Regions from separate parts of the Homo sapiens genome. Here region 1 is linked to region 2. Evidence: fine-mapped expression QTL. Tissue or cell type: whole blood. Region 2 holds a variant in brackets; the other region holds the start of a gene. Each region is shown on its reference strand, or each on the opposite one.

Region 1 (5,000 bases), not on the chromosome of region 2:
TGTGACCCCAACCACCAGCAAGCTGTACAACTGTGGTTCACCTTTTGCTCTCTCCTGCTCAGAGCCGTTGTGCAATCAGTTAGCCTTGAATGGAGCCATGTGTCCTGTGTTTTATCATCCCATGGTGTAAGGAAATATGTAACACTGTGGTTGTTAGAAAAAGCACTCTCAGGGCTCCCAGACTGGTGAATGCACTCAGCTGTTCTATATTTGGTTACTCTCTTTGTTTTCTTCTCAAAAGAGCCTAATTCCGGTTGATGTCTTGGGCATCCGGTCGATGTCTTGGGCATCCTGCCATGGACACCTTACTCTTCCCCCACACCCTCTCCCCGAGTCGCCTACTTTAATTTCACCCAAAGAGTTCTGCGAGAAGACATAAGAGTGTGGTGTGATGAGGAGAGGATCAATGTGTTGTTGTGCTCACTGTTCTGCAGACCTGAGCATGACACTAGCTACACTTCTGGAATTTGGAGACACAAGCACTGTCTGTGGTACAGTGATCATAACCACACACACTCTTACCAGCCTCCATGCACTGAAAACCCTATTTCCTGTAGGCAGAAACAAGCCCAGGCATTTGCCAAGACTGCTCATCTCATTCTGGTTTCATTGGAGGTGCTTAATCTCAGACAAGACCATCAGAAATCAGTTTGTATTACCTGAACTTTATCAGGGAGAAACATTTCTAACCCAAAGCAACCACCTAGAAAACAAGATTATCAGACTAGCTCAACAAAGGAACACGAAGAGAGTATAGATTTATTTTTCTCCAGTGGCATCTTCTGCAGTGAAGAACATCCTTAAATACCTAATAATGTTTGTATATCTGAACTACTGAATAAGAAAAAATAATGCAAAAGAGAGAAGTGTGGAACAAGAATAAAGTGAAAGAAAAATGGAAATATTTTAACTATATGGGGAAAATACTAGAAGGATAATCTCCTACTACATGATGTATTTAATAAGGTAGGGAAAAGGTGAAATGATGTCTTTAAATTATGACTGGAAGAGATAGATTGTGAGAAACAATATCTGATTAAATCATTGGGGTGAATGAGTGAGCACATAGGCACACACACATGCACGCACACATTGCTCCGCTATTAATATTGATACCTTCAGCATTCTTTACAAAGAAAATCACCTTGCAGGTCTATAGGGTATATGAATATTATGGGAAAGTGGAACTGGTCTCTTTCCTATTTCCTTTTAATATTAATTGCCTGATCAAACACATTACTATCACAATGGGTAGACCAGGTATATCAGTGACTCAAAGCTTCAAAGTGACAGCTTATAAAGGGATACAAGGAATCTTGCATTGCAAAGAAAAAGAAAAAGATCTAGAAGCTGTGCCTCTGCCCTACCTCCACTCTGCCCTACCACTGCCACTGCTGAAAAGAAGGAAGGAAAGGAGAGACAGAAGGGCGTTTAACCACACTTTACGATTGCTGTGGGGAGAGGGAAAAAAAACTCAACACTTTTGGCATAAGATTATTTCCAAGCGACTGTTTGCAGCTGTTGCAGCTGCCATCAGCATGAGCTGGTGGGAAAACAGCGCCCAGTGGTGCATCTTACCTGAAGAGCAGAGAAGTGCAGGCAGATGTAGGTGAAGCACAGGAGCAGCCCCAGTCCCTGAATTACAGAGGCCACCAGCAATAGCTTGTTCCTCTCGAATCTTGGCCTGGCTGCATTTCCCACATTCTCTTCCAGGGGTTGGACCCTTTCCATCTTCACAATCTGGGTAGAGGGAAGATGAAGATATGGAAAAGGGGAACGTGCGATAAAACTGAAGTTTTCCCCAGAAAGAAGGAGGTAAAGACAAAACAAAGCCTATCAATCAGAAAATAGGCAAAGGTCCCAGGGCCAGAGATAAAAGGCGATTGAAAGAGCAAAGCGGACTCTCTCAGTTTTAACGCTGCAACTTTTGCAGGCAGGCGGGGGAACTTCTTTGTGACTAATCTGAATTTCCCCTTTACTTTCTTTCTTTTTTTTTTTCCTCTGGGCTAACAGGGAGTTGTTTTTGTGACATTCCAGTTCTGATTTGAGTGACTGTGAAATGACAGTCATAAAAGTATGCTATTTTCTTAACTTATTGCACCAGTAACAAATTGTGGGTCACTTGGTAAAGATAAAAATCATCATCCGTTAATGTAGCAGCTCATATATCCCTTCCCCAAGGTGTCTTAAATCATAGAAAAGATTTAGGGGAAATGCTGGCCCAAGGTTCTTATCTGCACTTTACTATGTAACTAAACATTGAACCCCTCTCACAGATTCAGAAAGAAAGCACACACAGATCATTCTTGAATGAAAAAGACAAAACAAGAAAATAGGACACTGGGTCATGCAGAAGTAAAGGAGAGATCCTTGGTTGTAGTCTATTGCATAAAAATAAACTACCTTTTGGAAGCATTTACTATGTGTCAGACACTGTGTTAGATGGACTTGCAATCTTTCTCTCATTTAACCCTTTGAGGCAAATTCAATAAACAATTATATGATTAATTTTCTGCATACCAGAAAAGAAGCAGAAGGGTATCCTTGTCTCCTTTCCTTCCACTTCACATTTTTCCCGTACATAATTTTTCCATGAATGAACAAATGAATAGATGTAAATAAGCTTTGAAGATTATTTCTTTCTTTGAGGTCGTGGCTGGCCTCAGAACTTGGAAAGTAAGAGTATTCTATCAATAGACACCAGGTACCCTTTACCACTAAAATAAACAATGAAATGAAATAAATGATAAAATTACTTATAATGTAAAGTTCAAATGGGCAAATATTTACTGAGTACATCACATGAGCCTGGCACTGTACTGGACAACATAAGGATGCTGGGGAAAAGCTGTTTAAGACGGAATTGTCTCTCTTTGTGGCCAAGTATGTCTCTCTCAGCTCCCCATGAGGCACCCAGCAGATATGTAAAGAAAGGAGGGAGAAATATTTTGGATATTGACAGTATGAGTTGTTATACCACTTCACAGAAAAAATGGAAATGAGGCATACTTAAAAGAGAAAGTTTGTGGGAAATGTAAAGTACATTTATGACTACAGTATTAATCAATTAAAATATGAATTAATACCTTCACTACAATAATTATGCCTTGCATTAGGAGAACATACTGGTGTTGAGAAATTTAAGTTTTATCTGAAAGATAAGGTAACTAAGGCACAATATCATAGACTCCAAGCCAAAACTAGAAATCAAATTGTATCCAAACATATTTGTCATAGTTATTCCCTTGAACAAAGCTTGTGTTACATACAGGGTGTGGAGAAAAAAGCTGAAGGAAAAATCAGTGTGTAAAGCCCAATTCTTGTGTAATAGTTCTTCATAAAAGAGTATTAAAATCAGTAACTATTTACTCGTCAATTTTCAAAAAATGACTAAGAGTCACAGCAAAAAAAAAAAAAGCCATAAATACTATTGGAAACTAGAAATAAGCTGAAAAAGTAGTAAAAACTATTCATGCTGAAAATCGTAGATAACATTTTTAAATTACTGTCAAAAGAATGAAAAAAATAAACATTTACCATGCACATACTTGTACCTTAAGCAGCATTTCTTCTCAGTGTTAATATCATGGCTCCGAGAAAGAAAAATCTTTGCACAGAGTCATCTCTACCCACATTTAGGCTAACACTTGGATGACACACCTCTCATTTTTATTGTCTTGTCGTCCTACTACCATATTTTGCCTAGTTGTAATTTTTGTTGATGTTTAAGTGATATTTTACACTTAATTGTCTCTTTTTTTATTGAACACGTTTTCACAGCTCTTCACATTCTTTGTGGGAAGAGATACACACACACCAGGCTGGAAGTTTCAGGCACAGATTTCTGATAGACTATCTAGGCATTCCAAAGTTCATCACTGGGCTAGTCTAGCATTTGAACAAATGAAATCACTATTAGAGTTATCATTGCTGACCTTTCAGTCTCAGGCACATAAGCAGAGTCCTCCATCTTCAAAACGTTTTTCAAAAAATAAAGCTTAATTGTTTTTAAAGGGGTCAAATACGTTACTAAATCTATGGGCAATTTTTTTCATTTGCATTTATTTATTTATTTTAGAGACAGGGTCTCACTCTGTTGCCCAGGCTGGAGTAGAGTAGCACAATCATAGCTCACTGTAATCCGGAACTCCTGGGCTTGAGCGATCCTCCTGCCTCAGCCTCCCAAGTAGCTAGGACTATAGACACGCAACACCAGGTCTGGCTAATTTCTTTTAAAATTTCTTGTAGAGACTCCCTATGTTTCCCAGGCTGGTCACAAATGCCTAGCCTCAAGCAATCCTCCTGCCTTGGCCTCCCAAAGCACTGGGTTTATAGGCATCAGCCACCAAGCCTGGTGGCAATTTTTCTTAAAGTATCTCACAAATATTAAATACATAAGCACACCAGAGCAAATCAGCCTTAAAATAAAGCCACAGGATGTAAAATAAACCAAAGTAATTATCTTCCCATAGACTATTAACCTCCTAAATGAATAGCCATTTCAAGACTACAGAAAATATGGAAAAGAAAAGGGCTTTGACCACTCACAAGATACCTCATGTTCAGAAAGAAGCAAAAAACATTTGGGTTTTTTTTTTTTCTTTGGTTTGAGGGTTTTGTTGTTGTTTGGATTTTTTGGTGTCTGGGTTTTGGTTTTGGGGTTTTTTGGTGATAAAAAAAATCTACATTTTTCATTTATCTCTAAGTCAGATTTTCATTTGTCCATTCAACAAGACTGAGCCAAATACTAGAGGAAAAGACACAAACAAAACACATTTTTAGTCCTCAGGGAGGTCACAGACAGGAAAGCGGAATCTCCACAACCTGGAAAGTTCTGGGTCCTAGGTATCAGTGCAGAAGGGAAGGGTGCAGGGGGACAGGTGCTAATCTACACTGGAATTAGGACAGGAACAGCTTCCTTGATCTGGGAGAAACGAGAAGCAGTCTGGCCATCTGGGGCACTGGGGAGGGGCAGTGCCTGTTGGGCCAGGAGTGAGGGC
Region 2 (5,534 bases):
GGCTAACACGGTGAAACCCCGTCTCTACTAAAAACAAAAAAAATTAGCCAGGCATGGTGGCCGGCGCCTGTAGTCCCACCTATTCGGGAGGCTGAGGCAGGAGAATGGGGTGAACCCAGGAGACGGAGCTTGCAGTGAGCCGAGATAGCGCCACTGCACTCCAGCCTGGGTGACAGAGCGAGACTCCGTCTCAAAAAAAAAAAAAAATACAAAAAAATACAAAAATTAGCTGGGCGTGGTGGTGTGCCTGTAATCCCAGCTGCTCGGGAGGCTGAGGTGGGAGAATTGCTTGAACCTGGGAGGCGGAGGCTGCAGTGAGCTGAGATCGTGCCGCTGCACTCCAGCCTAGGCGACAAAGCAAGACCCTGTCTCAAAAAAAAAAAAAAATGTTGTTACAGTTGTTTATGTCCCCATCTAAGGTTAGATGGAATCAAAAGTGGCAGGATCTTTAGGGGAGAGGAGAAGAGAAGTGAACTCAAACAAATTAAGAGAAAGAATGACCCAATAAAATTCTCCAATCACTCAAGTTTTGATGAAATCTGGAACATACTGGCCGTGAAGGCAAGCAGATAGGCGTAGTTCGGCCTATAGTCCTTTATGGATTGATTAGGAATCACCAAGGCTGATTCCAATCAAAACTGAAAGGTAAGTGAGAACACCAGGGGTCCTGCTCCCCCCAGCACCCCCTTGCCCTAGCATCTCCTTTTGCATCATTTTCCCCCACTTGGTGGTGCCCTAAGCCCAGTGGCTTAAGGTTATTAGCTCCTAATGTTACTGAAACAATTCAAATTTGTCAACAATGTTTTGCTTGAAAGAATTAGTGGAGTAGTGGAGTCATTTATTTTTATTTTTTTATTTTTATTTATTTATTTTTTTGAGACGGGGTCTCGCTCTGTTGCTTAGGCTGGAGTGCAGTGGAGTGATCTTGGCTGACTACAACCTCCACCTCCCAGGCTCAAGCAATCCTCCCACCTCAGCCTCCCATGTAGCTGGGACTACAGGCATACACCACCACGCCTGGCTAATTTTTATATTTGGGGGAGAGATAGGGCTTCGCTATTTTGGCCAGGCTGGTCTCAAACTCCTGGGCTTAGGCAATCTGCCCACCTTGGCCTCCCAAAGTGCTAGGACTGCGCCCAGCCTCAGAGTTATTCTTAAACAGTGTTTCTCTAGAATATCATCTCTAAAATGAGGCTATTCCAATTTTGACTGGGATGATCAGCCTGCACAATTTTTTCAACAGGTTTATAGACAATAAAAGGAGACCTTTCCTAACTCATTGCTGATGGCATACTGTAACTTTCCTTTAAAAGTTGCTTAGGCTGGCCAGGAGTGGTGGCTCACACCTGTAATCCCAGCAGTTTGGGAGGTGGAGGTGAGTTGATCACTTGAGGTTAGAAGTTCAAGACCAGCCTGGGCAACATGGCAAAACCCCATCTCTATTAAAAATACAAAAATTAGCCGACATGGTGGTGTGTGCCTGTAATCCCAGCTACTTGGGAGGCTGAAGCACGAGAATCACTTGCACCTGGGAGGTGGAGTTTGCAGTGAGCCGAGGTCACACCACTGCACTCCAGCCTGGGTGACAGAGTCTAAAGAAAAAAAAGTTGTTTAGGCCATAGAATCCAAACATTTCTTGACCTCAGTTTATATTCTGAGTCTTTGGAACTAAAAATGTTAGATAAGGAACACTGTAATGGGAGAACACTTATAAGAAAAATAAATTTCTATTTTTTAACTAACATATGTGATCAAATACCCACAAAAGGCAGAGAAAGGGGTTCCTCCCTGCTGATGGGGACAATGACTTCACTTCCCTTTACCTGACTGAGTATCCAGCATCATGACCACCCACTGCTCAGCTGTCAGCCGTGTGACAGAATTGTCTTTCATGATCCAGGAATCTGGGGCCTCTGCAAACACCACGCAACAGAAGGGCTCCACTTGAATCACACAGACATAACCATCCAGGACATCTTTTTGGTACACATTCAGGATTTTTGTAGTGAAATTTACCTTTGGCTTCTCACAGCAGAAGTGGAATGTAGGCAATTTTTCTATGCAGTTTTCGATTTCTTTTTTTAGTAAGTCAGGATTCACTTTTTCCCACTTACATCCAACCACTTCTTTGCTCTTATCATCCACCCCAATGAGGACATATCCCCCTTGAGTGTTGGCAAATGCAGAAACATAATGAGGCAGCATTTCCTTAATCCGAGGTATGACTTTTTTGGTGGTGAACCTTTTAAATTCAACATGTGTTGACTCAGTAAAGTTGAGTTTCTCCTTATACATGAGTTTGTCCTTTTTAAAAAATTCTGAGGCCAATATCCTCATATCTTCCTCTTCCTGAATGCATCTATTGAGAACCTGCTGAGGATGCAACTTCTTCACCCTTGGTCTTCCTCTTTGGGCTCTAAACCCCTTCTCTCTGAGAAGCTCCAGGGCACTGCTAGCACTCAAGTTGATAGCAGAAGTCACATCTCTCCGATACAAATTGGAGCGCAAGCTGCAAATCCTTAGTGGAAGGCTGAAAACATCTGGGCTCCATGACTTCACAAAAATCAGGAGATTGTGCCCCTGCTGCATGTAGTCAAGGTATTTC[T/C]GTGAACCTGAAGGAAGGAGCTTTTGAAAAGAAGTTTCCAAATCCTGTCCCAGCCCATGGCATTGGTAACTATAGGTTTTATCATCAATCTCTGCTTTGATCACACCACCTCCAGAATTTAACAGTGCACATATAGCCCGGATAATTCTAGAATTCTCAGATCTTTTCAAACAGCTGTTGGTCATCTTCTTCCTGTTTTCTTCTCCAAAAATCACTCTGCCCACATCTACTATTACCTCAGGATACGGCATTTCAGTATCAGTCTTGAGACTCTCCATTTCAGCAGCCCCTCTGTGCTCCAAACAATAAAAGAAAGGAGTTCCTATAATCAGGACAGAAATATTGTTTCTATATTAATAAGAATTCCAAAGATTACAATATTTTCTTCAAAACTATCAATTACTGGAGATATATTTTAATGTTGGAAGTCATCTCTCTCTATATGTATATTTGTTGTTGTTGTTTGTTTTGGGTTTTTTAGTTTTGTTTGTTTGTTTTTGAGATAGAATCTTGCTCTGTTATGCAGGTTGGAGTGCAGTGGCACAATAATAGTTCTCTGCAACCTCAACCTCCCAGTTCAAGTGATTCTCCAACTTCAGTCTCCCTAGTAGATGAGACTACAGACACGTGCCACCAAGCCTGGCTAATTTTTTTTTTCTTTTTTGTTCTTGCTATTTTTTTTTTTTAAGAGATGGAGTCTTGCTACGTTGCAATCCTCCTGCCTGGGCCTCCCTCCCAAAGTGCTGGGATTACAGATGTGAGCCACCGCACCCAACTGGAAATTATCTTTGATACTGCTGTTTTCTAATCACTTTGCCAAATATCCTTAGCCTTGCCAGAATAAGTAGGCATGGATAAAGGTGAATGCCTAATATTTGTCATAATGGAAAAATTAAATTGCTAACATTTTCAGCCATTTTGCATTTCAAATCAGGAAACGCCAACACTGAGCCCAGATATAAAGGGCATGGGTTGGCACAGGAGCCCAGGAAGGTATTGGAGAATATGCAGAAATAGAAGTTGAAGTGAGAAGATGCTCTTATTTATAATTCAAAAGGGGAAGAAAGGAAGGCACTAGAGAACTAAGGAAGTATAATTTTACAGTATATGTACTGTAGAAGATCTTGCTATAAACACAAACATAGGCTGGGTGTGGTAGCTCACATGTGTAATCTCAGCACTTTGGGAGGTGGATGTGAGAGGATTGCTTTCGATCAGGAGTTGAGACCAGCGTGGACAACATAGCAAGACCCCATCTCGACAAAAGATAAAAAAAAAAAAAATGTTAAACATTAGGCAGGTATGGTGGTGCGCACCTGCAGTCCCAGCTACCTAGGAGGCTGAGGTGGGAGGATCTCTTGAGCCCAGGAGTTTGAGGCTGCAGTGAACCATGATCGCACCACTGCACTCCAGCCTGGGCAGCAGAGTGGGAACCTGTCTAAAAAAATAAAAATAAAAGTAAATAAATAAAATTCTATATTTTTATGTATTATTTCATACACTTTGAAAAGCTTTATTTTACTCCTGAAAGAATGTCAGTTGATACCAAATGCAGAAACCTTTTCAACTCTTCACATGTTCTAAATCTCAAAAGTACATTGCCTCATATACAGTGTGATGTGACAGCAGCATTTTCCTTCCCTTCTAATAGTTCTGCCCTGTGCTGTGGAAACCCCTAAGACTTGGAAAAGAACATGAGCTTTTGGGGCATGGTAACTAAACCATTGTCACCCTTCTTTTGCTTCCTAGACCAGAAAACAGCCACCTAAACTGAAATTTGAGCTCTGAAACAAATATTTCAGAAAAGATCTGCTTACCTTTAGTCAATTGCAAAACAAAATATTTGCTAACTCAACCAAAATTCTTCCTCTAGGAGAAGAGAACCCATCTTTCTGTGTGATCTTTGCAAAGCAGGGGCCCTGTGGGCATTGTATATACTCACCAAGAGGAAGAAAGCAGGCATCCGGCAAGACATGTGCACTCCCCTGATATCAATTTGTTCTTGGTTGCCTTCTCACTTCCTTCAGGAAAACCAGAATCAACCTGGGGAATTCTTTTTAGAATGTGAGCCTCTTCTATAGGTACATGTAAATGTAGTATTTTATGGCTCCTTAGGGAAATTTCCCATAACATTCTATTTATATCATAGAATCACAGAAGTGTTGGAAAGGACTTTAAAGATCCTCCAGTCCAACAATCTATAGGATTCTAAAATCTCCTCTATAATATTGCCAACTCCCAACAAGTTGCAAACCTCCAGCAATGAGCAACTCACTACCTATCAAATAGTCCCTCTAGTCCCTTCTAATTTCTGACGTCTGTGTTAGAAATGGTCTCCTTACTTTAAGCTGCAATTTGTCTCCCCATAACTTCCACTGATGGGACCCACAAAACAAATCTAATTGATTTTGAATAGCAAACCCTATGGTCTCGTGACTCGTAAGTCTCATCAATGTTATTTGAATGCTGATAACAATTATGATAAATACAACATTTACTGAGATTCTAGCTCGAGATGAATATCCTTTCCACATTTCCCAGGACTTTTTTTTCTTTTTTTGAGACAGAGTTTTGCTCTGTGCCCAGGCTGGAGTGCAGTGGCACGATCTCTTGGCTCATGGCAACCTCCGTCCCCCAGGTTCAAGTGACTCTCCTGCCTCAGCCTCCAGAGTAGCTGGGACTGCAGGCAAGAGCCACCACTCTCGATACATTTTTGTATTTTTAGTAGAGATGGGGTTTCACCATGTTGGCCAGGCTGGTCTCGAACTGTTGACCTCAGGTGATCCACCTACCTGAGCCTCCCAAAGTGCTGGGATTATAGGGACGGGCCACCACGCCAGGCCTTCCCAGAATTTTTTATTCATTTTCCTTTACAAATTTTCCCTAAATACTATTTTACTAATCCCTCATGCCCTCAGATGTAGACTGC

Evidence for each region. PIP is the estimated chance that this variant, and not a neighbour inherited with it, causes the effect. A credible set is the group of variants that fine-mapping cannot tell apart.
Region 1: it holds the start of TNFSF4, and the variant in region 2 is the best candidate, but not a certain one, in a credible set for the expression of TNFSF4 in whole blood (TOPMed, PIP 0.77).

Annotation. Positions count from the first base shown.
Region 1 is chr1:173,205,446-173,210,445 of GRCh38, forward strand. TNFSF4 (TNF superfamily member 4) reads right to left here and starts at 1,886. Exons shown (of 3, transcript NM_003326.5): 1 at 1,579-1,886. The coding sequence starts at 1,731. RefSeq lists an enhancer at 1,818-1,877.
Region 2 is chr17:35,555,180-35,560,713 of GRCh38, forward strand. It overlaps SLFN14 (schlafen family member 14), which reads right to left. Exons shown (of 6, transcript NM_001129820.2): 2 at 4,548-4,626; 3 at 1,824-2,927. The coding sequence starts at 2,883. LOC107985033 (a long non-coding RNA gene) reads left to right here. Exons shown (of 2, transcript NR_138032.1): 2 at 1-370. Among named protein-coding and RNA genes, the nearest start is that of SLFN14, 2.9 kb to the right of the region's middle. The variant T/C (reference allele first, on the strand shown) is at 2,606.